Homo sapiens: one gene and its partners. The protein of the gene in region 4 interacts with the protein of the main gene of each other region in a pairwise test. Each region holds a gene or a part of one and is shown on either strand. Other genes may lie near its edges. The genes, in order: NCALD, TCF25, GET3 and GPX7.

Region 1 (7,426 bases), on a different chromosome or scaffold from region 4:
TCCCTGCTGAATTCCGCAGTGCCTAGGAGTGCCTCACCCCCAGTAGACACTTAGTGCCTGTTTGTGGAATAAATGAGTTCCAAAAGGAGGTTGTCTCCTTCTTCTTCACTACTTCTTTCTGACTTTTTATGGATTGTTGTCTTAATCTCTATAAATGCTTTGTCCTTGGGGCTAGTAGAGCATAGGGCTAAAACCACTGGGCAACCAAGCAGCAGCCCACACTCACAGTTAGGCTCTCTCATTCACAAGCAGTGTCACCTGGAATAAGTCACCTAGCCTCTCTGAGTTTTCATTTATTTGCTTATGAGATAGAGAAAGCCTGCCTGCCTATCACACAGGTTGTGAAAGTTTAATAGGATGTCACATGAAAGATCATCTAGGATAAGGCATCATTTTCATTTATGGCAGCGTCTGGCCCTGACTGAATGCCAGAGCTTTACATGTTTGACTGTCTCATTTAACTCTCACATGGAATCAATAAGAGATGAACTCATATCATTAAACTCATTTTACAGATGAGAAAACTGAGGAGAACCAAAATGTTAAGTGAATTACCCACCAGCTAGTAAACAATAGAGCCAGGCTTTGAAGCCAAGCATTTTTATTCTAGTGTTTTTCCAGTGTTCATCCAACAGGACATCCAGGAGGCCAACGTGTCATAGTTCCCAACAGATTATATTCTGAGTTATCTACAAACTTTTTTGAGTCACTTGAAGATTTGTCTTTACACTCTGATTATAGTTTCCACCAGCCTATGCAGACTGCCAAGTAGGTCTCATTTTTTCCTCTTAGAAATGGTAAAATATCATATAGTCACTTATAAGAAAAACTGTGATTAGAAAAAATTTTAGCATTATCCACTTTATGGTCATTCAAGAATGTTAAGTGTGAGCAGAGAACAACAGTTCCACAACTTGATTAGTTGGTAGTTTAACATGGATGTCTGAAAGTCACATATACGTAATTTCTTAGGATTCTTAAATTAGTAAATCTAGTTTACTGAAGCAGTATTAGCATTACTATTTTAGATTGCAAAAATGCCTTAATTGTGTAGAATTGGCTTATAGAGTGTTACTTAAGAAAAATGTGATTCTACCTCTATTTCTGTTGTAGCACACTTAACAACAAACAAACATGAAAAGATATATTAGCTTTCATAGAAACATTTTTGTTCTGTAAATAGGTTAATGATATGGTAAGGCCCCTAAGATAACTGAATTAACATTGTTTATATTAATGTTACTGCTGTTTATAAGATAGTATGAATTTGTGGGCTTATCTGAATTGTAGGCCATTCCCGTGATTAAAAATAAAGACAAAACTTTGAGTTACTGTTTGCGAAAACCTTATTGTGCTATGTAGAAATATTGAACTAATATTAAAATATTTGATGCTTTGGTTTCAGGGATTGGTTTAAAATTGGAGTCCTTTTTTTATTGGTTAGTCTTACAAAAGTGTAAGCCATTATATTTTTGACTATTTAAATAAAAACAAATGTTATTTTAAATATACAGAATGGATTGATAGTATAGGAGAGTGTAAGTTCTTCATAGGAACTTTAGAAAAGAAATATATGCTAATTCAGTTTTTTTAATCTTCTGCACAGTATATATACACTTGGTAATTTTGAACTCAATTTTGTGTTTTGAAAATATGTGTTCATAATTTAGGTAATTTGCTACTTAAAGCAATAAGTCTCTGATACCTGAAAAGTAAATGTAAATGGCGACGGTGAAATAATACTGCAATTAACTTAATAGAGAAAAAATTATTAAAAGACAGCCTGTCATACCTATGTTCAACTAGCACAAAATAAATGTTTTAATGACTGACTGGAGTTATGAAAACGATTTGACCCAAGGTGCAATTTTTGTCTCCAAACTGTTTTTCTCTTAACTGCCAATTACTGTAGCATTTCCCTAATGTTATCCTGCCCCATCCCTTCGACTCAAACGGGCAGAAATTCCTGTCTTCCCAAAGAAAAAGGTATTGTCAGGCTTCCCTCTGTCTTCCTCCTCACCACCTAAGGAATGAAACTCTGTCAAATGTCCCCTAAGATTTGTGTTGTACCATCTAACCAAGTCCAGATGGTGTCTCAAGTTTAGTCCTCATACTTAGTAAAGTGTTTGTAGATGAATTCTAGGCTTAATTGTGAACACTCGTTTTCCCAATAACTTATTCCATGCTTTTCTGACTTGTTTGTGTTATGGCCTTTCTGTGCTGATGAATTTGTAAATGTGGTTTAATTACTGTTTACCAAAAAATAGCTGCACACAGATCAGTCTCAGTGGGAGACTTAGCTAAAATGTTGAGGCAATTTGTTTCTAGTGCAAAAGCAGCTAATAAATTTGAAGCACTTTTTAAACACTGGGAAAGGCACTTAAGTTTGGTTGTGAAGAAACAGTGCTTTATACATTGGAGACATAAATCATTCTTTAAGAGAGTAGATTTAAATATCAGAATGGCATTTTTCCCCAAGGCCAGGCAAGCAGCAATTTGCACAAACTGTAAAAATGGTGATTTGATTGAAAACCACACCAAAGAGATATATTCTAAAGAACTCCCCAAAAGGAAAACTTGAAATTACTTGTAAATTCCATAAAATGTCTCAGAGCTCTAGAAAGCCGGGTATTATGTATTACCGGATGTTTCTGAATTCTGGCCTCAGGCAAATTGCCAACTTAGCAACTAAATGACAGCTTTACAATTCTAATACAAACCAGCCTCTGTAACTCTGTTTTTTTAATCTCCAGGGGAAAAAAAGGACACAGAGGGAAGTGAAAGATATTAGACTGTTCAATTTATAAATTCCATTTGTTCTCCATTTGAGTTGCAGTTGAATTTTGCTTTTGCATAAAATGGTGTTTGCTTGATTCTGCCTAAAGAGGGAACTCTGGGCCAAGCGTGGTGGCTCATGCCTGCAATCCCAGCAATTTGGAAGACGGCATGAGCCCAGGAGTCTGAGACCAGGCTAGGCAACAAAGTGAGACCCCCATCTCTACAAAAAATAAAAAATTTAGCCAGGCATGGTGGTACACACCTGTAATACCAGCTATTTGGGAGGCTGAGGCAGGAGGATTGCTTAAACTCAAGAGTTTGAGGCTGCAGTGGGCCATGATTGCACCAGCACATTGCAGCCTGAGTGACAGAGTCTTAAAAAAAAAAAAAAAGGCAGGGGGAACCCAAAAAGTAAGTTCCTTCCTACAGCAGTTGGCCATACTCATAGGTGAAGTGCCCCATACTCCCATCACTTTGGACACCTGCATATGAGCAGGGCAGGTTTTGCCTCCAGTGCAGAAGTCAGAAAACAAAATCAATAAACTTGGCAATGAATGAGGATTGCTGGTCATTATCTGAACCATGAGTATTATGCAAGCAGTTTGAGTAGCGTGAGATACAAACACCACCCCGTAGAAGTTTATTTTTAGTGAGGCCACCAGACAGGCCTCACTAAATTCAATATAAGAGATCCTAAGCTCAAGTCTTAACCACCAGATAGTTTTCAGTGTGTAAAATAGCGTTCTGAAAACCAAGCCCCCGTGCTTCTGGCAGTGAGCCTCCTTTTCCAAAATTATTCCATGTTTCCACTTTGTAGTTACCTTCCTATCAGTCATTTTTCTCAGTCATGCCTTCATTCATTCATTCACCAAATGCCATTTGCGGTGGGCTCTAGGAAGACGAAGCAACCCCAGTGGAGACTCTGCCTCAAGGGCCTGACTGTGTAGCAGGAGGGAGACAGAAACAAACCCCAGAATGCGTGAAATCGCAAAGAAGATTGGCAATCATTAAAATGGGGATATGCTGTCTTTCAGGTATTCTGTAATTTTTCTAAGCTTTGCTTTCAGGTTTTTTTTTTCCAATAGACGAAAAATGCAAAATACAAGTGCAGAACTTTTTTTTGAGATGGGGTTTATCTTGACCACACTTCAATCATATACCTTGGGAATTAGGAACTAATCTCGTATATCACCTCCTCCAAGAAAGCTTCCCTGAGAGCACCCATGCCCCCTTTGGGTTGGGCATTTTTCCAGGTACTTTCACCAAATCCACTCTCTATTCTGTAGCATATCTGTCATATCGTCCCCTCACTGTTACCACCATCCCCTGCACACACAGCTAGGTGCCCTTAGGGAAAAGGGGCCACATCTTATTCTGCATCCACAGAACCAGAAACACACTGGTAATTGAGAGCCAAATGTTGAGGCAGTTTGTCTCTAGTGCAAAAGCACTATAAATGAGAAGCACTTTTTATACATTGAGAAAATAACTTCAGTTTGGTTTTGAAGAAATGGTGCTTTCTATACTCAGGAAAATAAATCATTCTTTAAGGGAGTAGCTTTAAATATAAAAGTGGCATTTTCCCCCAAGGCCAATAATAATTACAGGTATTTCCCCACCTAGTAAAAGTTACCTTTATTTTCCACACCATGTTAAGTTTAAAAATAGGTAACAAAAAGGTGTGCATTCTTGTTATGGAAACATATATTAACAGCATATTTAAGTACACATACGAAAAGTCTGGAAGAACACATATCAACATGCTAGCAATTGTTATCTCTCAGGGTTAGTATTTGAAGTGATACTGCTTTTTTTCCCTATGTATCACTCTTTTACTATGTTACTATAACTATGTGCTACTGCCATGATAAGAAAATGCAAAGTTATTTGTATTTTAAAGAGAAACATTTGACCTATTTTATAAGCCAAAATCATGACATAACTTTATGAAGCATCATCTTTACTATCAAAACCCAACATTGTCAGTGATTTATTCCATGCGTTTAAATCCCTGAACTAGCATGTTGGAGTTTGGTGGTATTAGGTTTGCTTCCATTTTCTGTCTTTATGTCTGTGTTTATAATATTCAGAAGGTATCCAAGCAGCATTTTACTTGGAAATATTCTAGCAATAAAACCTGCTAAATTCTTTCCCTTGGTCTCTCTCTTCCTCCTTTCCTTTAATTTTCCCTGCTAATACTTGGATTAGCTATCAGAACCCCAGCCTTCTTAAATTTAAGCTCAACCTCTGGCAAATTGATGTCAAAATTAACTAAGCAATTAATTCTCCCTCTCTCCCTGCCCTCATTTCCCTCTACCTCACGCTCTCTCTGAACCTTTTGCTTTCAGGATGGCTCTGTATAAAAGAAGTATTCATTTTCTGGTCAGTGATAATTCTGCTGTGCATCCTCTACTGGCCTATCTTTCTATTATTTTGTTTGGCTGACCAGTGTGTTGCAAAACCTAGACAGTGTTACTGGACTCGTATAGAGTTTATTTGTTTGTTTTTTCTTCTTCCCAAAGGAACAATTACAAATTATAAAATGCAGCCCTAAAGAGCAGCTCTACAAATTATATATGTTTTCTTTTCTATCTGCAGCTGAATTCTTGCCGCCAGGATGGGGAAACAGAACAGCAAGCTGCGCCCGGAGGTCATGCAGGACTTGCTGGAAAGCACAGACTTTACAGAGCATGAGATCCAGGAATGGTATAAAGGCTTCTTGAGAGACTGCCCCAGTGGACATTTGTCAATGGAAGAGTTTAAGAAAATATATGGGAACTTTTTCCCTTATGGGGATGCTTCCAAATTTGCAGAGCATGTCTTCCGCACCTTCGATGCAAATGGAGATGGGACAATAGACTTTAGAGAATTCATCATCGCCTTGAGTGTAACTTCGAGGGGGAAGCTGGAGCAGAAGCTGAAATGGGCCTTCAGCATGTACGACCTGGACGGAAATGGCTATATCAGCAAGGCAGAGATGCTAGAGATCGTGCAGGTACGTAGACTGAGCCCTTTAAAAAAAGAAGGGCATGTATCTCAAGTAAGAATTGGAAGGTGCACAGTATAGCACGGTGCAGAGGTTGCAAACTGGTGAGTCACCAGGACACTTCATTTGGCCCACCCTGCATGTTTGAACAGTTTAAACTGCATTACAGTGTGGGGAGACTGCACATAAAAATCCACACTGGTCGGCATCTCTTGAAAAACTAGACTAGTGGGACTCCCGGGTCATAGGTGCATTTAAAAATGTTCTGATTGGCAATTGGTTGTAAGAGTTACGATCAATAAAAAGGAATGTCTAGATTATGATTAGTGGTTGTGGAGACCAAGGTTTTACCATACAGATGAAGACTCTTAAGTAGCAGGCTTCAGAGAAAATAGCTTGGAAATGTTTCTTATCAGATGTAAAATCTGTGTTGCTGTTAATGCTGGTGGGCTTTTCCTGAATTCCAAGAGGAAGGAGGGTATAATGAGGCATCTCCAACACCCCTTCCATCATGGCCTGAGCATGTTTTTCAGATTAACTTTAGAATGCCCTTGGCTGAGAGGAGTGGTTCATTCAGATGATTGGGGGAGCCTTAGAATTTTATTTTTTGGTTTACAGCACCATGTTAGCTCCTGCTCAACACTTTTGCCCAGTCGTCCTGGCTGCTGTTGGTCAATGGTTTTGTGATCAGTACTGATGAAGATGCAGACGCTGAGGCAGGGAGGAACATTTAGTCTTCGTGGGCTGATGAAATCAACACTCCCTGCTAAGAACTCAGCCCTGAACAAATAGTATAGGGTGGAAAATGGACACTGTCCCTTTTCTGTGGAATCCAGTTTGTGAAAGAGACAGAGAGAATTGCAGAGAATATGCAGAAGGTATGAATTGACCCCCACCCAGCCCCTGTTGACTTCACTCCACCACATTTGCTAAGGAATGTAAAAAGTGATCATTAAAAGGAAGGTGCTTTGGGGCAATGTCCTTTGGAAAAATAAATAAATAAATGAAATGAAATGAAATAAATAAAAGGAAGGTGCCTCAGCCTCCCAGAGGCATTTTCTTCACTGTAAAGCACCTCAGTCCATTCACAGGCCCACAGTGTTTCCAGGCTATAATTGTAAGGACACCCATTCCTTACAAAATGCTCAGACACTCATGGCTCTTAAGAAGACTGCAAAGGAAAGCTTGAATTTCTTAAACTGTTTCCTAGAGTGCTAAGTCCTGATGATTAATATTCATGATCACAGAAAGGAAATATTGTAGCATCCCGAGGTGACTTCCAAATCATCAAAGAGATTAAATTAAACTTAGAACCATTTTCATATTAAGGGCTATGTTATTCTATTCTGCTACTTTGCAAACTGACAATTCATGTATTCTGCCACATTCTTATGCTAATCTCCCTGCTTTCAATTATTCTGGATAAACTGGAATTTACTGTAGGATCTCACAGAGCTTCCCATTCTATTTTTTGTTGTTGTTGTTTTTTCCCTCCCTTTTTGAAAACCCACACTCCTCAAGCCTTGTCACTGCCGCAGGAAGCTTTGTGCCTTTGTCTGGCCGTCTTTTCTTTGTTGTAGCTGGTCTGCAGCACTCAGGAAAATGCTCCTTTGCTTCAGAGCAGTCACTGTCAAGTTTCTGTTTTGTGCCTTTCTAAATATC
Region 2 (7,765 bases), on a different chromosome or scaffold from region 4:
TGGGTGACAGAGACTCCGTCTCAAAAAGACAAAATACAAATAAAAGTATGTCACCAGCCAGGCGCGGTGGCTCATGCCTGCAGTTCCTGCACTTTGGGAGGCTGAGGTGGGAGGATCTCTTGAGCCCAGCAAATTCAAGGCTGCAGTGAGTATGGCTGTGCCTCTGTACTCCAGCCTGGGCAATAGAGCAAGATCTGTGTCTTAAAAAAAAAAAAAAAAAAAAAAATATATATATATATATATATATGTTACCCCTCAGGCCTCAGTTCAGAAGCAAAACTCTGCTTAAGGAGTACTCTTACTACCACTATTTTTAAATCTTACTCTACATCCTGCCACTTGGCAATGGAAAAACTTCCACCTCATCCATGTTAAATGTTGATTATGTGCAGGGTAAGGTGGCAGGTCCCGTATAGTATAAAAAGGGAAAGTTCTTGCCCTCTAAGGAGCCCCTGTCCAGATGAGCAGGAAACGTGGCAGGTCCCGCATGGTATAAAAAGGGACGGTTCTTGCGCTCTAAGAAGCCCCTGTCCAGATGTGCAGCAAGCAGGAACCCCGTGCCAGTCTTCAGCCAAAAGGCACAGAGGAGACATCGGAGAGCACAGGGACAGAGAATATTCTCCAGGAAGCCCTGGCTGCCACGCAGGTCCCAGACTGGGGAGGGAGGTCCCCTAGCACTGAGTGTACCTGAATGTCTCTGGTGGTGCCTGGTTCATACCTCCTCCCTCTGTGCTGCAGATGAAGATGCCTTCTAAGAAATTTGGACACATCCCTGTCTACACACTGGGCTTTGAGAGTCCTCAGAGGGTATCAGCTGCCAAAACCGCGCCAATCCAGAGAAGAGACATCTTTCAGTGCGTTCTTCGCCTTGCTGCTGATGTCACTGTGGTGGTCGGGCGTGAAGAGGAACTTGGGAGCTGGGGTGGAGGGGGCTGGCTTTGTCTGTTTGCTAGGACACCCCAAGGAAATGGAAATGCAAGGCAGAGACGGATCGTTGTGTAGGGCTCTGGGAGGCTGAGCAGTATGAGATGGAAACTGGACTTGGGTGGTCAGGGAACAGTCTGCTGAGATGAACACTGCTAGCTGTGTTTGTTGCCTGAGGGCCAAGGGGAGGCCTAGGGTGAAAGGCAGCCAGGAGGGGGCTGTGGCATGCACAAGCAGGGAGGGGGGTGTGGCACCCTGGCTGGCTCCTCTCCCTGAGTGCCCTCTCCCACTTCCCAGGTCTCTGCAAGGGCCACAGTGGCAGAGCGTGGAGGAGGCGTTCCCCCACATCTACTCCCACGGCTGTGTCCTGAAGGATGTCTGCAGTGAGTGCACCAGCTTTGTGGCAGACGTGGTGCGTTCCAGCCGCAAGAGCGTGGACGTCCTCAACACTACGCCACGACGCAGTCGCCAGACCCAATCCCTCTACATCCCTAACACCAGGACTCTTGACTTCAAGTGACAGCCCCAGGTGGCCAGGCCTCCAGGAGGCACCAGGCAGGCCCTGTATCAGGCTAGGACGCTCTGAGCTGTGCATGTACATATATACATATATAGATACATTTATAATATATACACACAGTCTATATATTTATATACACTGTTTCCTGGCCCCAGAGCTCATTTGGGTTCAGGCGCACTTCAAAACCCTCCCTGGGGGAGGCTGTTTCTTCTCAGGATTCCTTGCCAGGGAGGAAGGGGAGGGAACAGGGTGGGTTTTCTCACTGAAGAGAGAAAGCAGAAGGTTCTAGATCCTGGCACAGACTGCATCCCATGTTCCCATGCTCTTCTCCGTCCCCAGGAATGCGAACGGCAGTTTCCCTTCCCCAGTGGACGTCTAGGTGGGGACAGGGTATCTTGGCTCCCAGCTGGACCAGAGTGCCCTGCTTGCCTCTGCTCTCCCTTTGTGGGGACTCAGGCAGCAGAGGCATCTGGGAAGTCTCTGAGTAGGCAGGGTCCTCCTGGGAGGCACCCCCACCTGTTTGAAAGGTCTGGCCAGGCGTGGTGGTTCAGGCCTGTAATTCCAGCACTTTGGGAGGCCGAGGAGGGAGGATCACCTGAGGTCAGGAGTTTGAGACCAGCCTGGCCAACATGATGAAATGTTGTCTCTACTGAAAATGCAAAAATTAGCCAGGTATAGTGGCAGGAACCTGTAATCCCAGCTACAGGGGAGGCTGAGGCAGGAGAATCGCTTGAACCCGGGAGGTGTAGGTTGCAGTGAGCCGAGATTGCACCACTGCACTCCAGCCTGGGCGACAGAGCGAGACTCTGTCTCGAAAAAAAAAAAGGTCCGTGCCAAGCTGCTCCCTGCCCTTGCCCTTTCCCTTTCCCTGGGGTCCAAACCACATGTGTCCTGCCTCTCCTGGCCCTACCACATTCTGGTGCTGTCCTCACTCGCCCCTGGCCCAGAGGCTCCTGAAGATGCTGGGCGGTCCTGGCACAGGGAGGAGCAGCTCTGTAAATCTGTGCACATGGCCACTCTTGGCCTAATAAAGGAGGTCTCACAGTCTTCTGTCTGGGATGTGCGCTGAGGATTCACCCAGCATGGCATGTTCTCCCAAGGTTGAAGCTGGGCTTGAGGGGCCACCTGCCTTCCAGGACGAGGAAAGGCCTCCTGGCTTAGAGTCAGGTGCCCACCAGGCAAGGGCTCCAGGCCTGCTCTGTCCACGCAGCCCTGGCTGCCTCTACCAGCTTCGTGGTCCTGGCCACCATGGTCAGGGCTGCATGCGGACGGCACAGACTACTGCCCATCAGCTCCTCTGGCCACACCTGCTGGCCTGGGGGGTACTTTGGTCTCATTTCCCAGATCCGTATTCTCGTTCTCCAGGGAGAGGATCCACAGGGGCAGGAGGTGTGACTGCAGGCTCTAGACAGGCCCTGTGCCGAGTGCTGTCTGCTCACCTGCGCCCGGCTCAGCCTGTTAACGGGGCCCTGCCCTGCTCCTCCGTGACGTTCTGCCGTCATCTTACCTTACAGATGAGGGAACTGAGGCTCAACGAGGTCAAAGAATTTGGCCAAAGATACACAGCTCACCCAGAACTTTGACTCCAGGCTGTAATGCTAGCCGTGGGGCCTGGAGGTCAGAAGGGACAGGACTTGTAACTGATGGGCCTGCGGGAGAAAATACTCCTGTCAGCTGGGGTCCAGGAAATCCAAACACACAAAATTAGAGCCCCCAGTAAAAACAGCCAGCTTCTAGCATGCGTGTAAGCATTTCACGGACTCTCTGGCCTGTATTTTTATTCCTGTTTAAAAATAAGAAAACAGGCACAGAGAGGGTCAGGGAACTCCTCCGGTCACACAGCCAGCAATAAGCTAATGTGTAGTGCTTGGTAAGGACGACGGTTGTTCTGGTTCTACGGGGACTCACACTCCCTATCATGGGGAGACTGGGTTGTAATTCATACAGGAACACTTGGAAATGAAAGCCCACGTTAAAACCCTAAACCACGGCAGGTGCAGTGGCTCACACCTGTAATCCCAGCACTTTTGGAGGGTGAGGTGGGCAGATCACTTGAGGTCAGGAGTTCGAGACCAGCCTGGCCAACATGGTGAAACCCCATCTCTACTGAGTACAAAAATTAGCCGGGCATGGTGGCACATGCCTGTAGTCCCAGCTACTCGGGAGGCTGAGACAGGAGAAGTGCTTGAGCCTGGGAGATGGAGGTTGCAGTGAGCCGAGATTGCGCCACTGCACTCCAGCCTGGGCAACAGAGCAAGACCTCATCTCACAAAATAAAATAAAACCCTAACCCATCCTGGGAGGGGCCAGGCCGGCTCACCAGGGCTGCTGCTTGTGCTCATGAAGCCGCAGTAAGTCGGGCAGGAGGCTGCTGGCACCTGTCTTCTCTATGCCCTCCTGTCCCCATGTCCCCAACCCCAGGCACAGGAAGCTGTGCCCTCCGCCCACTGAACCCAGCACTGTCTCAGCCTCATCTACTTTATTTTTTTCATTTTTTTGAGACAGGGTCTGGCTCTGTCGCCCAGGCTGGAGTGCAGTGGCGCGATCTCGGCTCACTGCAGCCTCAGCCTCCCGAGTAGCTGGGATTACAGGCGTGCGCAGCCACGCCCAGCTAATTTTTGTATTTTTAGTAGAGGGAGTTTCACCGTGTTGCCCAACCTGGTCTCGAATTCCCGACCTCAGGTGATTCGCCCACCTTGGCCTCCCAAAGTGCTGGGATTACAAGCGTGAGCACCGCGCCCGGCCCTTAGATCGTGACAAACGCGGGCGGCCTGTCCTAGAACTGTCAGAACCACTGTCCCTAAAGAGGCCTCGGGCGGGCAGTAAGGGCCGCGTCACTCAATGCTGCTCGAGGGGCGGCGGCTCCAGGGCAGAGGCGGGCATCGACGGCTAGATCACTCGAATGACACCCTGACACGAAAAGGACCAACTAGCAACGTCCGGGACGCAGCTGAAATGCTGCAGGCACGGTGCGGGGACAGGCCCCGGCGGGCAGAACGCGGCTGCGGGTTCCGGGCCACATGGATGGGCAAGGCCGGGCAGGGCCGACTGTCGCCGGCTGCGCGCCCGTTACCCCGAATCGAAGCCCGTCATCCCCGCGGGGCACCTCTCCATGCCCGGTGCGCACGGCGCGCAGACACCCAGCTCTCCAGAGACCTGGCCCGGACCCCCCGGAGCCCGCCCAGACGCCGCCGCTGAAGCGGGAAAGTTCCGGAGAGCCGCGACGCGCAGGCGCCGCAGCCAGGTCCTGCCCCCACCCCTCGCGCCAAGAGTGCGCAGGCGCGCAGCCAGCTCCCCCGCCCCCGACCCCGCGCGAAGAGTGCGCAGGCGCGCCGACAGCCGAGTTTTCTGCGCTTCCTTCTCCCTCTCTCCAGACGTCGTGGTCGTTCGGTCCTATGTCGCGCCGGGCCCTCCGGAGGCTGAGGGGGGAACAGCGCGGCCAGGAGCCCCTCGGGCCCGGCGCCTTGCATTTCGATCTCCGTGATGACGATGACGCGGAAGAAGAAGGGCCCAAGCGGGAGCTTGGTGTCCGGCGTCCCGGGGGCGCAGGGAAGGAGGGCGTCCGAGTCAACAACCGCTTCGAGCTGGTGAGGAGCGCGGCGGCCCGGGTGGGGGTGGGGTGGCCCTTGACGTTGTGGGGCGGGGCGAGCGTCCAGCCGGGTCGGGGAGCGGGGTTGTGATGCCAGGGGTGGGAAGGGTGACGTGGGTCCCAGCCGCAGTGGGGAGGGCGGGGCCGTGCGTCGGGGCCAGGGCGACGCGGGTGGGCGGTGGCGTGGGGTGAAGACGGCGGGCCGCGGAGTTAGACTGGGTTCTAACCCCGGTGAGGTGGGCGGGGCTAAGGGATGGGGCGGGGCCGTGCTGTCGGGGCGGGGCGACCGAATGGGCGGGGTTAAGCGGGGTCCGGGTTGTGGAGGGTGCGGGGCCTTGATGCCAAGGGCGTGGCCAACGTCCGCGGGGCCGGGCCACGACGTGGGCGGGATTAAATGGGCCTGCGGCCACGTGGCTGTCGTGGGGCCGTGACGCTAAAGGGCGTGGCTAAAGACGGGGGGGTGGCGAGGCGATGGCGTGGGCGGGGTTAAATGAGGCCTGGGGCCACCGTGGGGGTGGGGCCACGGCGTAGGGGCAGGAGTCGGGTGGGGCTTCCCTTTCTCGAGTCTAGAGGGGCCTTCTCTCGGTTCCAGGGTTGAGGACTTGCCAGGCCTCTGCGAGCATTCTGCTTTAATCCTCACAACAACTCTGCCTAACCCAGGGCCTTGCTCTTCGCGCATCCCCATCAGCCTAACCCAGCGGATTAGTCTTACTCTTTGCTGCATCTCCGGCAGCTCGTTTCTGGCACAGGGAAGTAACAGTTTGACTGTATGGTTTGCTCATGCGGTCCTGTGACGTTTTCTCCTAAGCCCTGGCCTCCGTCTGTAACTCTGCCTCTGCGGGCTCTGCGATCCTCCCACCTCAGCCTCCTGAGTATCTAGGACTACAGGTGGATGTCACCACGCCCGGCTAATTTTTTTTTTTTTTCTTTTTTGTAGAGAAGAGTTTTCGCCTTGTTGCCCAGGCTGGTCTAGAACTTCTGCGCTCAAACAATCTGTCCACCTCAGCCTCACAAAGTGCTGGGACTACAGGCGTGAGTCACCATGCTTGGTTGACTGCCCTTCTCGCATCAAGTCCACCTTTAGTGGTCCCCAAGACCCCCGTCAAGGTTCAGTAATTTGCTAGATTCACAGCAGTTACTGAAAGCTTTTTGTTTTGAGATGGAATCTTGCTCTGTTGCCCAGGCTGGAGTGCATTGGCACAATCCTAGCTCACTGCAACCTTGAACTCCTGGGCTCAAATAGTCCTCTCACCTTGGCCTCTCAGAGTGTTGGCATTAGAGGCATGAGCCACTGTGCTTGGCCCCGTAAGTCTTTTTAAATTTTTGTCAATGTAATTTGTGAAAAATGATATCACATTATTTTATTTTACACTTCTTTGGTAGTGAAATGCAGCACCTAGCTATGTATTCGTTGACCATTTATATTTCTCTTTGTGACAACCTGTTTATATCTTTGCCTTTTTATAGGGGGTTTGGACAGTCTTTTTGCTCGTGGAAGCTTGCTATCGATTGTCTCTAACGTATTTTCTCGGTTTGTGTTTGTTCTTTAACTTCTTTAATTTCTGCGTGCTGAAAGATACTGGAGCCACTTTTCTCATTGTTACACATCCATCTCTCTAGAGTGTCTTCACATAGATATTCCCTGACGTGAGTTTTTTTTTTTTTTTTTTTTTTTTTTTGAGATGGAGTCTCGCTCTGTCGCCCAGGCTGGAGTGCAGTGGCATGATCTCGGCTCACTGCAAGCTCCGCCTCCTGGGTTCACGCCATTCTCCTGCCTCAGCCTCCCAAGTAGCTGGGAACACAGGCGCCCGCCACCACGCCTGGCTAATTTTTTGTATTTTTAGTAGAGATGGGGTTTCACCATGTTAGCCAGGATGGTCTCGATCTCCTGACCTCGTGATCCGCCTGCCTCGGCCTCCCAAAGTGCTGGGATTACAGGCGTGAGCCACTGCGCCTGGCTTTTTTTTTTTTTTTTTTTTTTTTTTTTGGTTACAGACAGGGTCTCACGGTGTTGCCCAGGCTGGTTGCTGGTCTTGAACTCCTGGGTTCAGGTTATCCTCCTGCCTCAGCCTCCTGAGCAGCTGGGACTACAGCATACCCTACCATGCTCAGCTTGTTCTTTTAATGCTTTTTTTTTCCCATTTAAATATTTAATCTTTTTGGTATTTATATTTGTGTTGGTGGGAATTTGGAAAAAGTGTGGTTCATGAGTTGACAGAGTAAGAGTCTGTAAGGTCAGAAACCACACAAACCCTTGTGGACTTTCTGGAGTGAGTTTGAGTGTCAGTAACACTAACAGCCTCCATGGATGAATGACTGCTTATCGTGCTGTGTTCTTAGGAATTTCAGAGAATTTTATCCAGTGGCACACATCAGTCTTAATTTAAGCATTCCATACTTTTTTGCTCTTAAAACTCATATTTGGAAATAATATAATCAAAATGTTTATTGGCATTCTGTTAAATAGCTCTTAATAAACAGAAGTATGGGAGACAGTAAACAGCCAGTTACGACTAAATGGTTATGAATGTGAATGCATTGGTGAGAGACATGGTGTTTCTCTTTTTAAAAAATTTTATTTATTTAGAGACAAGATCTCTTTATGTTGCCTAGGTTGGTCTTAAACTCCTGGGCTCAAGAGATCCTTCCGCCTTGGCCTCCCAAAGTGCTGGAATTGCAGCTCCCAGTACTTTGGGAGGTGGGCAGATCACCTGAGGTCAGGAGTTCGAGAG
Region 3 (7,426 bases), on a different chromosome or scaffold from region 4:
TTTTCTCACGTCTCAAAAAAAAAAAAAATTGGCTGGGCGCAGTGGCTCACTCCTGTCATCCCAGCACTGTGGGAGACCGAGGCGGGTGGATCACAAGGTCAGGAGATCAAGACCCTCCTGGCTAACACGGTGAAAGCCCATCTCTACTAAAAATACAAAAAATAGCTGGGCATGGTGGCAGGCGCCTTTAGTCCCAGCTGCTCAGGAGGCTGAGGCAGGAGAGTGGCGTGAACCCCGGAGGCGGAGCTTGCAGTGAGCTGAGATCGCGCCACTGCACTCCAGCCTGGGCGACAGAGCAACACTCTGTCTCAAAAAAATAATAAAGGCCGGGCACGGTGGCTCACATCTGTAATCTCAGCACTTTGGGAGGCTGAGGCGGGCAGATCACAAGGTCAAGAGACTGAGACCATCTTGGCTAACACGGTGAAACCTCATCTCTACTAAAAATACAAAAAAATTAGCCAGGTATGGTGGCGGGCACCTGTAGTCCCAGCTACTCCGGAGGCTGAGGCAGGAGAATGGCGTGAACGCGGGAAGTGGACCTTGCAGTGAGCCGAGATCGCGCCACTGCTTTACAGCCTGAACAACGGAGCGAGACTCAACAAAAAATAATAAATAAAAATAAAATAAAATAAAGAGATGCTGCAGAGTGAGGATGCTGGCAGAGGACAGTCCTCAGGTGGGATGAGCTCCATCCAGCATACAGACCCAGAACTTGGGCGCTGCCAGGGTCAGGGACTGGGAGGGAAACAGGAGGAATTGGGGCACTTCCCGGGCAGAGATGAGGGTGTTGGCAGCCAATGGCTTCTCTTTCTCACCAAGGAACAGGCAAGGGTCTCAGCAGTGAATGGGATAGAAGTTTGAGGAGGGAGAAAATACCACATAAACACTTATTAAGGTAGCAGGGGGAACCAGAATTGTCTGGATCATCAAGTGCCCATTGGAGATTTGTGTTCAGAAGAGGGGAGCAAGGGCGGGCGTGGTGGCTCATGCCTGTAATCCCAGCACTTCGGGAGGCTGAGGCAGGTGGATCAGAAGGTCAGGAGTTAAAGACCAGCCTAGCCAAGATGGTGGAACTCCATCTCTACTAAAAATACAAAAATTAGCTGGGCATGGTGGCTCACGCCTGTAATCCCAGCACTCTGGGAGGCCGAGGTGGGCGGATCACAAAGTCAGGAGATTGAGACCAGCCTGGCTAACAGGGTGAAACCCCATCTCTACTAAAAATACAAAAAGTTAGCCGGGCGTGATGGCGGGTGCCTTTAATCCCAGTTATTCGGGAGGCTGAGGCAGGAGAATGGCGTGAACGCGGGAGGTGGAGCTTACAGTGAGCCTAGATCGCGCCACTGCACTCCAGCGTGGGTGACAGAGCAAGACTCCATCTCAAAAAAAAAAATACAAAAATAAGCCAGGCACGGTGGCTCACGCCTGTAATCCCAGCACTTTGGGAGGCTGAGGCGGGCAGATCACCTGAGGTCGGGAGTTCGAGACCAGCCTGACCAATATGGTGAAACCCCGTCTCTACTAAAAATACAAAAATTAGCCTTGCGTGGTGGCCGGCACCTGTAGTCCCAGTTACACGGGAGGCTGAGGCAGGAGAATTGCTTGAACCTGGGAGACGGAGGTTGCAGTGAGCCGAGATCATGCCACTGCACTCCAGCCTGGGATACAGAGCGACACTCCATCTCAAAAAAAAAAAATTAGTTGGGCCTGGTGGTGGGCGCCTGTAATCCCAGATACTCGGGAGGCTGAGGCAAAGAATTGCTTGAACCTGGGAGGCGGAGGTCACAGTGAGTCGAGATTGTGCCACTGTACTCCAACCTGGATGACAGAGCGAGACTCCGTCTCCAAAAGGGTGAGGAGCAAGATGGGAATACTCTTCAGGAGTGTTCGGCCCTCAAGTGCAGTGATACTAAAGAGCTAGAAAGCCATACCTATCATTTCAGTGCTTGCAGAGACTGAGACAAGAGGATCACGTGAGGTCAGGAGTTCAAGACCAGCCTGGGCAACAAAGGGAGACCCTTTCTCTACAAAAAACAAACAAAATTAGCTGGGCATGGTGGTGTGTGCCTATAGTCCCAGTAAGTTGGTAGGTTGAGGCAGGAGGATCATTTGAGCCTAAGAGTTTGAGGCTGCAATGAGCTATGTATGAGATGGTATCTTTTTTTTTTTTTTTTTTGAGACTGAGTTTCACTCTGTCACCCAGGCTGGAGTGCAGTGGTGTGATCTCAGCTCACTGCAACCTCTACCTCCTGAGTTTAAGCGATTCTCCTGCCTCAGCCTCCCAAGTAGCTGTGATTACAGGCGCCCGCCACCACATCCGGCTAATTTTTGTTTTGGGGGGGTTTTTTTTGTTTGTTTTGAGACGGAGTCTTATTCTGTCGCCCAGGATGGAGTGCAGTGGCGCAATCTCGGTTCACTGCAACCTCTTCCTCCCGATTTCAAGTGATTCTCCTGCCTCAGCCTCCCGAGTAGCTGGGACTCCAGGTGCATGCCACCATGCCCGGCTAATTTTTAGTATTTTTAGTAGAGACGGGGTTTCACCATGTTAACCAGGATGGTCTCGATCTCCTGACCTCGTGATCCACCCGCCTTGGCCTCCCAAAGTGCTGGGATTACAGGCGTGAGCCACCGCGCCTGGCCTGTATTTTTTTTTAGTAGAGACGGGGTTTCAACATGTTGGCCAGGCTGTTTTCAATCTCCTGACCTCAAATGATCTGCCTGGCTTGGCTTCCTAATACACTGGGATTACAAGTGTGAGCTACCGCGCCCGGCCAAGACGCTATCTCTAAAAGAAAGAAAAAAAAAGCTGGAAGTAACCAGAGTGGGGGATTTTGCCAACAGCAAGGGGAAAGGGAGTGTTTGCAGAGGGAACCTGTGGAGGCTGGGCTGGATAAGGGTGCCAGCCAAGAGGAACACTGACAGTTTACAGGGGCCAGGTGAGGGGATGAAGTAGTCCAAAGAAGCTTAAAATATATGAAGCATAAGAAGAGGGTGCAGTGATGAGTGGGCAAGCTCCCCAACAGGGAATGACCCCTAAGGCCAGCGAGTTGGGTACTTCCCCATGGGACCCATGAAGTTACCAAGAAGAGGTGACAGAGGAGGAAGATAAAGAGGGAGGCATTGGCCGGGCATGGTGGCTCATACCTGTAATCCCAGCATTTTGGGAGGCTGAGGTGGGTGGATCACCTGAGGTTGGGAGTTGAAAACCAGCCTGACCAACATAGAGAAGCCCCGTCTCTACTAAAAATACAAAATTAGCTGGGGTGGTGGCGCATGCCTGTAATCCCAGCTACTCAGGAAGCTGAGGCAGGAGAATCACTTGAACCCTGGAGGCGGAGGTTGCAGTGAGCCAAGATCACGCCATTGTCCAGCCTAGACAACAAGAGTGAAACTCCATCTCAGAAAAAAAAAAAATTACAAAAATTAGCCAGGCATGGCCAGGCGTGATGGCTCGTGCCTGTAATCCCAGCACTTTGGGAGGCCGAGGTGGGTGGATCACGAGGTCAGGAGATCGCCACCATCCTGGCTAACACAGTGAAACCCCGTCTCTACTAAAAATACAAAAAATTAGCCAGGTGTGGTGGCGGGCGCCTGTAGTCCCAGCTACTCACTGCACTCCAGCCTGGGTGACAGAGCGAGACTCCATCTCTTTTTTTTTTTTTTTTTTTTTTTTGAGATGGAGTCTCGCTCTGTCGCCCAGGCTGGAGTGCAGTGGCGTGATCTCAGCTCACTGCAGGCTCCGCCCCCTGGGGTTCATGCCATTCTCCTGCCTCAGCCTCCCAAGTAGCTGGGACTACAGGCACCCGCCACCTCGCCCGGCTAATTTTTTGTATTTTTAGTAGAGACGGGGTTTCACCGTGTTAGCCAGGATGGTCTCGATCTCCTAACCTCAGGTGATCTGCCTGCCTCGGCCTCCCAAAGTGCTGGGATTACAGGCGTGAGCCACCACGCCCGGCCAAGACTCCATCTCAAAAAAAAAAAAAAAAAAAAAAATTAGCCAGGCATGGTGGGGCATGCCTATAGTCTCAGCTACTCGGGAGGCTGAGGCAGGAGAATTGCTTGAACCCAGAAGGTGGAGGTTGTGATGAGCTGAGATCGCGCCACTGCACTCCAGCCTAGGCAACAAGATCAAAACTCCATCTCGGGAAAAAAAAAAAAAAAAGAGGGAGGCATTGAGTCTGAGACTGGCCAGGGACCCCAGCCATGGCCATCCCTTCATAGATTCTACATACATGTTTGTGTTTTGTTTTGTTGTTTGTTTTTTGAGACAGAGTCTCCCTCTGTCACCCAGGCTGGAGTGTAATGGCGTGATCTCGGCTCACTGTAACCTCTGCCTCCCGGGTTCAAGCGATTCCCCTGCCTCAACCTCCAGAGTAGCTGGGATTATAGGCACCCGCCACTATGCATGGCTAATTTTTGTATTTTTAGTAGAGACGGGGTTTCACCATGTTGGCCAGGCTGGCCTCAAGCTCCCGACCTCAGGTGATCTGCCCGCCTCCGCTTCCCAAAGGGCTGGAATTACAGGCATGAGGTACCGCGCCTGGCTGGATTCCCCATATGTGCTGACGACCTCTGTGCCAGGCACTGTTCATGCTAAGCGCTAAGGACACAGCAGTGAACTAGATGGTAAAACCCCTGCCCCTGAGGGGCAGACATTCCTGCTATGGAGACAGATGATAAACATGATAAGGGAATCATGAGGGATGTGAGGAAGGGCTAATTTTTTTTTCAGATAGGTCTTGCTATATTGCCCAGGCTGGTGTCCAACTCCTGGGCTCAAGCGATCCTCCCATCTCATTCTCCTGAGTACCTGGGACTACAGGCGTGAGCTATCCTGCCCAGCTCCTAAGGGCTAAACCTTAAGGAGAAAGGAAGGCAGGGCAGGGGTGTCGGTGGATCTGTGCTGTTACTTAGGGTGGTCAGGGAGTCTCTCAGTGGAGGGATGATGATCCGGAAGAGGTCATGGCCCAGTCATGGGAGTATCTGGGGTTGCAAGTGGCAGGTTGCAAGTGGGGAGTAGCAGTGTAAATGGCCCGCAGTGGGTTTCAGCTTCCCTTTGAGGGCCCTGGGCACAGCTTGCAATTTTCCCCTTGTTTTTGACCCTTTATGCAACCATACAAAACCCTAAGTACTACCTCAGGGTCCCCCCAGCCGTGACCTAATGAAATGCCTGTGGTCACAGCCCACCACAGGCTCCCTCTGGCCCTGTGCCCGGGTAGGAAGGCTCCCCCTGGCCCTGTGCCCAGGTGGGAAGGCTCCCCCAGCAGTAGCAGCAACCTCAGTCTCATCCCTTTGGCCCCCAGGAGATTGACCCCAGCCTGGGCGTGGCGGAGCTGCCTGACGAGTTCTTCGAGGAGGACAACATGCTGAGCATGGGCAAGAAGATGATGCAGGAGGCCATGAGCGCATTTCCCGGCATCGATGAGGCCATGAGCTATGCCGAGGTCATGAGGTCAGGCCCAGCCAGCAGGGGTGGGGGCTGCCTGGGGAAGGGGAAGAGCGGACACAGAGGGCCTGACCCCTGTCTCCCCTCAGGCTGGTGAAGGGCATGAACTTCTCGGTGGTGGTATTTGACACGGCACCCACGGGCCACACCCTGAGGCTGCTCAACTTCCCCACCATCGTGGAGCGGGGCCTGGGCCGGCTTATGCAGATCAAGAACCAGATCAGCCCTTTCATCTCACAGGCAGGCGGCGGGGGCCCCCACCTGCACCATCCAGGCAGCCGGGAGTGGGAGTAGGCCCGGGCCCCCAGACCCTCAAATGCGCACTAACAATTCCCTTTCCTTCCCACCCCTTCTCACTCTGGACTTCTCCCTGGAGGGGATGGGACGGAGCTGTCTTTCCTCCCCCACAGGCAGGACTCAGTGTCCCTGCCCCTGCCCGCTAAATACCCTAGACAGAGCCAGAAAGCACATTCCAGAACCAGGCAACCTGCCTTCAAACCCTCTACACTCACCATGTGACCCAACTGCTGTGTGACCTCAAGCAAATCACTTCACCTCTCTGGGCCTCACCTTCCTTGTCTTGCAAATGGAGATCATGAGAGTGCCCCATGGGTTATTATTATTATTATTCGAGACGGAGTCTCGCTCTGTCACCCAGGCTGGAGTGCAGTGGTGCGATCTTGGCTCATTGCAACCTCCACCTCGTGGGTTCAAGTGATTCTCGTGCCTCTACCTCCCAAGTAGCTGGGACTACAGACATGTACCACCATGCCCAGCTAATTTTTGTACTTTTTGTAGAGATAGGGTTTTGCCATGTTGCCCAGGCTGGTCTTGAACTCCTGGCCTCAAGCAGTACACCCACTTCGACCTCCCAGAGTGCTGGGATTACAGGCATGAGCCACTGTGCCCAGCCCCCATGGGTTATTATTACGATGACAACCCTAAAGCCCCCACAGTGCTGCACACCACCAGCACCACCCACCATGGTGTATGTGCACGTGTGGGTGTGTGCGTGTCCCCTGTGGGGACCTGTGCCTCAGGTGGTAACACTGAGCACTTACTGTGTGCCAGACACTATTCTCAGCACATTATATGCTTCAGCTCATCTGGTACAACAGATCTGGGAGGTAAAGTTTAGAGATGGGGAAACTGAGGCTCCAGGAGGGTCAAGCCCCTTAGCTATGGTTCCCTAAAAATGGCAAAGCTGAGGCCGGCCGCAGTGGCTCATGCCTGTAATCCTAGGACTTCGCAAGGCCGAGGCAGGTGGATTGCCTGAGGTCAGGAGTTCAAGACCAGCCTGGCCAAAATGGTGAAACCCCACCAGTACTAAAAATACAAAAATTAGCCGGGCATGGTGGTGCGCGCCTGTAATCCCAGCTACTCAAGAGGCTGAGGCAGGAGAATCGCTTGAACCCAGGAGGCGGCGGTTGCAGTGAGCCAAAATCACGCCATTGTACTCCAGCCTGGGCAACAGAGTGAGACTCCATTTCAAAAAAAAAAAAAAAAGAAAGAAAGAAATGGAAAAGCTAGTATTTGACCAACCCCAGGAATCTGCTTATGGGCCTGAGCCTTTAACCACTGGGAGGTATCAGGAGTCATCCCTCGGGTGTTTAGTGAACCCCCAACCCAGGAGGTCGCCGCAGGTAAGCTATGAGCCCTCCCACATCCCCCCTGCAGATGTGCAACATGCTGGGCCTGGGGGACATGAACGCAGACCAGCTGGCCTCCAAGCTGGAGGAGACGCTGCCCGTCATCCGCTCAGTCAGCGAACAGTTCAAGGACCCTGTGAGTGGTGGTCTGGCTGGCGGTGAGAGGCCCGGGGGCTGAGGACAGGGGCAGACCCCGCCCCTCACTGTCCTCTCTCGTGCCCTGTAGGAGCAGACAACTTTCATCTGCGTATGCATTGCTGAGTTCCTGTCCCTGTATGAGACAGAGAGGCTGATCCAGGAGCTGGCCAAGTGCAAGATTGACACACAC
Region 4 (7,579 bases):
TCCCTGATTAAAACCCTTAAGTGGCCTCCCATCCCATTCAGAATCAAAGCCACACTCTTCACAATGGCTTGTAAGATGCTACAGTAGCTGTGTACCCATCCCTTACCTCTCTGATGTCATCTTCTGTTACTCTTCCCCTTGCTCACTCTGCTCCAGCCACACTAGACTCTTTGCTGTTCAGCAAACACATCGTGCCTGCTCCTGCCTCCAGGCCCTTGTACTTGCTGCTTCCTCTACCGAGACTGCTCTTCTACTTTCCTCTCTGACATTCTTTAGGTCTTTGCCCAAATACCATTTTCTCAGTGAGGCTTCCTGATCATTCAAATTAAAGTTACAATCCCTCCTTACTCTATACCATACTACTCTACCCTCTCCCCCGCTTAATGCCATGTAAAGTACTACATGTTGGCCGGTTGCGGTGGCTCACGTCTGTAATCCCAGCAGTTTGGGAGGCCGAGGCAGAAGGATCACTTGAGGCCAGGAGTTTGAGACCAGCCTAGCCAATATGATGAAACCCCGTCTCTACTAAAAATACCAAAAGAATTTAGCTGTGCGTGGTGGTGGCCGCCTGTAATCCCAGGTACTCAGAAGGCGGAGGCACAGAATCACTTGAACCCGGGAGGCAGAGGTTGCAGTGAGCTGAGATTGTGCCACTGCACTCCAGCCTGAGCGACAGAGTGAGATGCCGTCTCAAAAAAAAAAAAGTAAAGTACTGTAGGTTTTGTATGACTAGTTTTAGTTTTTATTCTTTCTCTCTCCCAACAGGCAAGGAAGAAGAAAGAAGCTCCCCCTGTACAGAGACAGAGGGAGGGGGTGATCCAAAGCCGAGAGAGGAAACCGCGAGTACAGCAGAAACCAGCCAGTTACATGAGGAGGCTGGAATAGGCGGTGTCTGATTTGCATAGGGCTCAGGGGATTGGTTTGACTAATTCATTCCTTTTTATGGCTGAGTAGTATTCCATCGTATGGAGTATGCCACAGTTTCTTTATCCACTCGTTGATTGACGGGTATTTCAGTTGGTTCCACATTTTTGCAATTACAAATTGTGTTGCTATAAACATGCATGACCAAGTATCTTTTTCACATATGAGCTGGGTTTTGAAGCATAAATAGGAAAGGAGAAAAGTGCCCAGGAAAGAAAGTTACAGCTGAGAAATATTTAACTATTAACTTTTTTCCCCCTGTTTAGTAGAAATGCCCATCTATCTGGATTTTTTTTTTTTTTTTTGAGACGGAGTTTCACTCTTGTTGCCCAGGCTGGACTGCAATGGCATGATCTTGGCTCACCGCAACCGCCGCCTCCTGGGTTCAAGTGATTCTCCTGCCTCAGCCTCCTGAGTAGCTGGAATTACAGGCATGCACCACCACGCTCGGCTAATTTTGTATAAACATGTGAGCCACCTCGCCCGGCTCATCTATCTGGATTTTAACAGGAAATAGCTTGGCCAAACTTGCAACACTCCAAGTTATATGAAGTAGAATTTGAGAACTCCTGGTTACTGGGACACTCAAGAAGGGGCTGAGTGAAAGGGACAGGTGGCAGGAAGAGAGCCCAATGGTTCCAGAAGGCAGAGAGAGAAGAGACCATTTAATAGCTGTGGGACCCATCACAGGCTTAAGGCTCCCAAAAGAGATGGGGAAGAAGGAGCAGGATGGGCAGGGGCACCTTATGTATGCCTTGGCCCTTGCCTGGAGCGCCGTTTCCTCTGCTCTCCACCTCTCCTGATAATATTGCCTTCTCCTGAAGAGTGAGGCCACCTTGGTGGTGCAGAAAAATCCCATGGTCTACACCTGAAGGCCTGGGTTCGAGTCCTAGTAACTATATGATCTTGTGGCCAGCTTCAAAACCTTTGCTTGCCACACTCTAGAGAGTGACTTGGCACTCAAGGCCCTTCTCTATCCTGATGACCCTTCCAATCTCATCTGCCCCACACCCCTTCTCACCTCAAACAGCCAAGCACTTCTCTGACTCTGTGCTGTCATAGATACTGCTCTTTCAGTCTGACGTTGTTGCCCTGACCCTCCTAGAGAATTCCCATTCCTCTTTCAAGATATAACTCCAGTATCACCTCACACCTCCAGAAGGCCTTGCCTGGCTGCTCAGGCTAGGTAGCAACTGCCTCTGGGTCTCTAGGAGGTAGCCCTGGAGCTACGTCAACTCCAACATCTAGACCACATCTGCTCTTGCCCTTTCCTATCAACTCCACAGAACAGCCAGAAGGATTTTTTTTTTGAGATAGTGTCTGTGTCACCCAGGTTGGAGTGCAGTGGTATGATCATAGCTCACTGCAACCTTGAACTCCTGGGCTCAAGCAATCCTCCTGCCTCAGCCTCCTAAATAGCTAGAACCACAGGCACATGCTACCACACGAGGCTAATTTTTAATTTTTATTTTTTTAGATGGAGTCTCGCTCTATCACCCAGGCTGGAGTACAGTGGCACAATCTCTGCTCACTGCAACCTCTGCCTCCCGGGTTCAAGTGATTCTCCTGCCTCAGCCTCCCAAGTAGCTGGGACTACAGGCGTGTGCCACCACACCTGGCTAATTTTTTGTATTTTTAGTAGAGATGGGGTTTCACTGCATTAACCAGGATGGTCTCGTTCTCCTGACCTTGCGATCTGCCTGCCTAGGCCTCCCAAAGTGCTGGGATTACAGGCGTAAGCCATCGCGCCTGGCCTAATTTTTTAATTTTTTGAAGAGACAGTTCTTGCTAGGTTGCCCAGGCTGGTCTTGAACGCCTGGCCTCAAGCAATCCTCCAGTCTTGGCTTCCCAAAGTATTGGGATTACAGGTGTGAGCCACCGGGCCCTGTCGAAAGAGATCTTTCTACAACAAAAGACTCATTGTGATACCTCCCTGCTAAAAAGAACCTTCATTTCTTGGTTTAAAGACCACAGTCCCTACTGTGGCCTACTAGGCTCTGTGTGATCTCACTCCCTCCTGCCTCTCCACCTTTCCCTCTCATCCTTTGTCCTCTCTGTTCCAACCAAATGAGGCTTCTTTGTTACTCAATGCACCATGTTCCTTTCCCCCCAGGACCTTTGCACTTGTATGTTGCTTCATCCTGACCAATTTCTCCTCATTCTTCAGAGCTCAGCTCAAATCTCCCTTTTTCTGGAAAGCCCTCCATGGCCCTCCAGGCTAGTTTAGGTGGTACTCACCACAACAGTAATTTTAGAGCTATTTATAAATTATTTAATTCCTGTGTCTCCCTGGATAGAGATAATGCCCTCCTGTTCATCCCTGCCTAAGAATCACCTAAAGCAAAACTTGGCATAGAAAAGGTGCTCAGGAAGTTTTTGTTGATGACCACAGGAGTGCTTAGCCCTTACCACATTACATAAAATCTGCAGTTTACCTGGTTTCTCTCACACCAGTCTGTGAGTTTCCAGAAAAAACTCACAGCCTGTGAGTACAGGATCCAGCTCCATGTTTGACATTTCATGGGCTCAACAGGGGTTTTCTGAGCAGGGGGAGACATTGTGATGTGCTGCCCAGATCCCCCATCACTGAGGACTTAGGACAGACACCAGCTGCTAGGAGTGCTGTTAGCACAAAGCCTTTAATGTCAGCTTCTCCACAGACAGGGCCATCTTGGCCCTTGTTGCCCCACTTGCCAGGTGGCCCCACATCCAAGGACTGATAAAGGCAGGATGACCTGGCCATCTTAGCTCATCTGATGGGCTACTCTAGCTCTAGAGTCCCTGTCGAGTCAGCTAAAACTGTCTTGGGGCCTGCATGGAGCTCACTACTTTCCCCCTGTGCCACTCCTGTTCCCTCCCATCCTTCCCACGCCTGTTGATCCCAAGGGTGCTCCCTCATAAACATCCTGCACTCCAATCTCCATCTCAGAATCTGCTTCCAGGAACCTAACCTGCAACAGGCCCACGGTCCTCTCTTCTTCTCCCAGCCATCACTTTCAGGGAACATGCATTCATTCACCTGAAGTTTGCAGGCACCATTCAACTGTTAAAGTGTTTCGCATCCGTTTTTCTATTACTTCCATCCTATACCGACTAGCTCCACTTAACATGTGGAGAAACTGAGGTCGGAGTGGGGGCGTGACCAGGCCAGCCTAAGGCCGCTGCACTAATGAGAAGCTGAGCTCTCAGATTTTTGCCTCCCTGTCCCTGCCAAGTCGCTGTTTCCTGGGACAAGAGGGAGCCTCACTGAAACGAACTCCGGTCTCAGGGGACAGAATCCTGAAACCCTGGCTCTGGGGTCCGGGGCAGGGGTGCGCTGCCTCAGGACAGACGGTGAAACTGAGGTCCAGAGCCGGACATCCACCGCCTGCGGAGGGAACGAGAACGCGGCGCGTCCTGCCTTGCGGGCCGAGCGGCGCCAGAGCCGCCTCCTCCCGCCCCCCGCGCTAGATCCCCCCGCCCCGTCTTTGCCCTCGCGACGCCGCCACCTCCGGAACAAGCCATGGTGGCGGCGACGGTGGCAGCGGCGTGGCTGCTCCTGTGGGCTGCGGCCTGCGCGCAGCAGGAGCAGGACTTCTACGACTTCAAGGCGGTCAACATCCGGGGCAAACTGGTGTCGCTGGAGAAGTACCGCGGATCGGTGAGTGCGCGGGGTCTGGCGGCGCCGCTGGGCCCGGCCTCGCCCTGGCGGGGCCTGCTGGGGACGCCCCGCAGCCCGGTCCCCCGCGCGGTGTGGCTCCGAGGACGCTCCAGCCGCGCGGCCGCCAAACCCCGGCCCCCGCCCCGCTCGGCCGTGACCTCTGGCGCGGCGCCCCCATCCCGCGCCCGGCCCGGCCCGGCCCGCGGCTACGTGGCACGGCCTTGGCGCGGAGGAACCCGAAGCGCTCGCAGTCGGCGCCCACTTCGCTACCGGCACCTTTGGGCAGCGGGGTCCAGACCTTCGCCGGGAGGCCGGGCACCACTGCCCAGCCTTTGCCATTCACGGGTGAAAAAAGTAACCGTAGCATCGTGCGGCCTTTCCCTCTCCCGTCCTCATTTTCTGCATCTGGAACGGGGAGTGGCTGATTCGGAGTCCAGTGAAGAACACTGTGGAGATCAATGTGCAGGGCAGAGAGAGAGTTATTTCAGATGCACGGAGACCTCACACGGATCATCCCTGGGAGAGGGCACAAAGGCCCAGAGAGGGCAGGCATTCGCACAAGGTCACACTACACTAGAAAGACGGGGCCTGGAAGAGAACCCCACCGCCACATCCGGGGTCCTCTCTAGGCCAAGTCCTTAGATGGCAGCTCAGGGGCACACATAAGAGTCATCCAGGCTAATTGCCCCCTCATTACCAAGAGGGAATCTAAGCTCAGAGAAGACTTCGGAGAGGAAGGGTATCTGGGTTGAGTCTTTGAATACGAGTGGATTTTAGCAAGACTAAGAAGCAAACAGCAAGAAGGGGGTGGGGGGGCGCGGGGCCAGGAGTTCCAGCTGTTGTGCTTCAAAGAGTCTAAAGCTGGAGGCTACGAGTGGTGGAAGATGAGGCTGAAACGACTGGCAAGGGAGCAGGCGGGACCTTGAACACTACATTGAGAGGCCTGCATGTCACATTATGTGCAGTGAAGAACTCCCAGAGTGGACCTCTTCAGGATGGACCTGGGGACTGGTGTGAAATGGCTGGGGAGTTGAAATCTAATGAACAGGTGGGCCAGCGTCCAGTTTTGGATGAACCACACAAAAATAGATGTCAACATTTTTCTCCTGGGAGCAACACCATCTTTAGTGAAGACCAGTACTCTATAAGCCTTGAAATTTTCGATTATGCTGGGAGTCTTGGGGACAGTAATCCCTGCTTGATTGTCCCCCAGAGTGTCGTGAGTTTCAAATCAGATGAAGGCGTGGATGCACTTAGTAAACTGTAGAGTGCTTTGCACCTGTGTTTGGTGGATCCCAGCAGGAACTTCATTTAGAACTCTGGGCAAAGAACCAAGAACAGGGCCCGCTCCAATTCAGGCCTCCTGTTCTCTCTAGGGCAGCTCACCAGAGAGCCCCAGGTTTAGCGTCTGACCAGCTCTGCTACTTATTAATTCGTTGTTCATTATTGAACACCTACTGTATACTAACTAGATACTAGGTCAGGCCCTGGGGATACAGTGGTGAACAAAACAGATACATTTCCACTAAATGGAGCTTACATGGGGTAAGGAGAAGAAAGACAATAAACAAGGAACTGAGAAATGCACGAGGTAATTCCTAGTAGTAGTAAGTGCTAAGACAAAAATAGAACAAGGTCACACAGCTAGTAAGACAGTAAGAATTTGAACCCAGACAGTCCAGCTCCAGAGTCTATGCTCTTAGTTGCCAAGTTCAGCAGTAAACCAGGGAACAGGGAGTCCAGAAAAGCTGTAATTGGTGCTGAGTTAACCCAGGCTAGGCTTGCTGCTTGGGCAATATGCTCATTCCTTCACCTGCAAACATTTACTGGCTCCTACTACATGTCTGACACTGGGTCCAGCTCTGATGACATAGTCATGAGCAAGATTGACATGGTTGATGCCCTCAGGCTAATTGGGACCATAGTCATTTAGACCAGTATGGATGAATGGGTGACCACTTGGGAATGTGTGGGGTTATGTGTAGTGTGTGCCTTTGTGAATGGTTTACTTCTTCTGTGTACAAATCTGAGTCTGTGTCTGTGCTTGTATATGTACATATGTAAATTAACTGTGTGTACTTGGGTGTGTCTGTCTGTGTTTTGGTTTCTAAGGACCAAGCTTTTTGGTTTCAGGGATGGAACTAGAAGCCAGATTTTCCCCCTTCCAAAAGAGCGGGCAGACATGCAAGTTGTGAGTTAAAAATAAGCAAGCTTTGGCCGGACGCAGTGGCTCACGCCTGTAATCCCAGCACTTCAGGAGGCTGAGGCGGGTGGATCACAAGGTGAGGAGTTCGAGGCTAGCCTGGCCAACATGGTGAAACTCCGTCTGTACTTAAAAAATACAAAAATTAGCTGGGCATGGTGGCGTGTGCCTGTAATCCCAGCTACTCAGGAGGCTGAGGCAGGAGAATTGCTTGAACCCGGGAGGTGGAGGTTGCAGTGAGCCAAGATCGCGCCACTGCACTCCAGCCTTGGTAACAGAGCAAGACTCTGTCTTTAAAAAAAAAAAAAAAAAAAAAAAAGCTTTAATGTTCTCATTGCCCAGGGATCCAGCAGGGGGAAAAAAAGGAAGAACCCTAACTGAGGAAGGGAGTTAACAGTCCCAGTTTCTCACCATTCCAGGCACAGTATGGTGTATGCTGACCTCAAATTGAGGAGGTTGTTCTAATAGCCAGTGGCCCCAGGCATGGGTCCTTTCTCACCTGGTGGAGGTAGGGTACAGGAGGTACAGCTCAGTGGTTCAATCATCTAGCCCAGTAGTTCTCAACTAGGAGTGATTATTCCCTTTAGGGCACAATTGGCAATGTCTGGAGACATTGTTGATTGTCAAGACTGGGCATCTAGTGGGTAGAGGCCAGGGATGCTGCCAAACATCTGATAATAAATAAACAGGACATCCCCCCGACAACAAAGAATTATCTGACCCAAATGTCAATTATGGAGGATAGGGCTAGGCTGCCTAGGCACCGGCTAGGGTTTTAAATCCATTAATAATATATACCTAGAAGCTAAAAA

The links.
Region 1: the proteins of GPX7 (region 4) and NCALD interact in binary tests that used the Homo sapiens proteins (3 or more experiments, as listed by UniProt).
Region 2: the proteins of GPX7 (region 4) and TCF25 interact in binary tests that used the Homo sapiens proteins (3 or more experiments, as listed by UniProt).
Region 3: the proteins of GPX7 (region 4) and GET3 interact in binary tests that used the Homo sapiens proteins (3 or more experiments, as listed by UniProt).

Annotation. Positions count from the first base shown.
Region 1 is NC_000008.11:101,717,599-101,725,024, reverse strand, and holds part of NCALD (neurocalcin-delta), read left to right. Parts: intron 1-3,673; exon of another isoform or gene 3,674-3,812; intron 3,813-5,376; 5' UTR 5,377-5,395; coding exon 5,396-5,773; intron 5,774-7,426. UniProt on the Homo sapiens protein: May be involved in the calcium-dependent regulation of rhodopsin phosphorylation. Binds three calcium ions.
Region 2 is NC_000016.10:89,868,829-89,876,593, forward strand, and holds the start of TCF25 (ribosome quality control complex subunit TCF25), read left to right. Parts: upstream 1-4,763; 5' UTR 4,764-4,839; coding exon 4,840-5,031; intron 5,032-7,765. Other genes in the region: SPIRE2 (protein spire homolog 2), read left to right, coding at 739-854, 1,222-1,444. UniProt on the Homo sapiens protein: Component of the ribosome quality control complex (RQC), a ribosome-associated complex that mediates ubiquitination and extraction of incompletely synthesized nascent chains for proteasomal degradation.
Region 3 is NC_000019.10:12,740,071-12,747,496, forward strand, and holds part of GET3 (ATPase GET3), read left to right. Parts: intron 1-5,306; coding exon 5,307-5,455; intron 5,456-5,538; coding exon 5,539-5,689; intron 5,690-7,126; coding exon 7,127-7,234; intron 7,235-7,324; coding exon 7,325-7,426.
Region 4 is NC_000001.11:52,597,984-52,605,562, forward strand, and holds the start of GPX7 (glutathione peroxidase 7 precursor), read left to right. Parts: upstream 1-4,387; 5' UTR 4,388-4,426; coding exon 4,427-4,564; exon of another isoform or gene 4,565-5,582; coding exon of another isoform or gene 5,583-5,612; intron 5,613-5,636; exon of another isoform or gene 5,637-6,146; coding exon of another isoform or gene 6,147-6,155; intron 6,156-7,579. UniProt on the Homo sapiens protein: It protects esophageal epithelia from hydrogen peroxide-induced oxidative stress. It suppresses acidic bile acid-induced reactive oxygen species (ROS) and protects against oxidative DNA damage and double-strand breaks.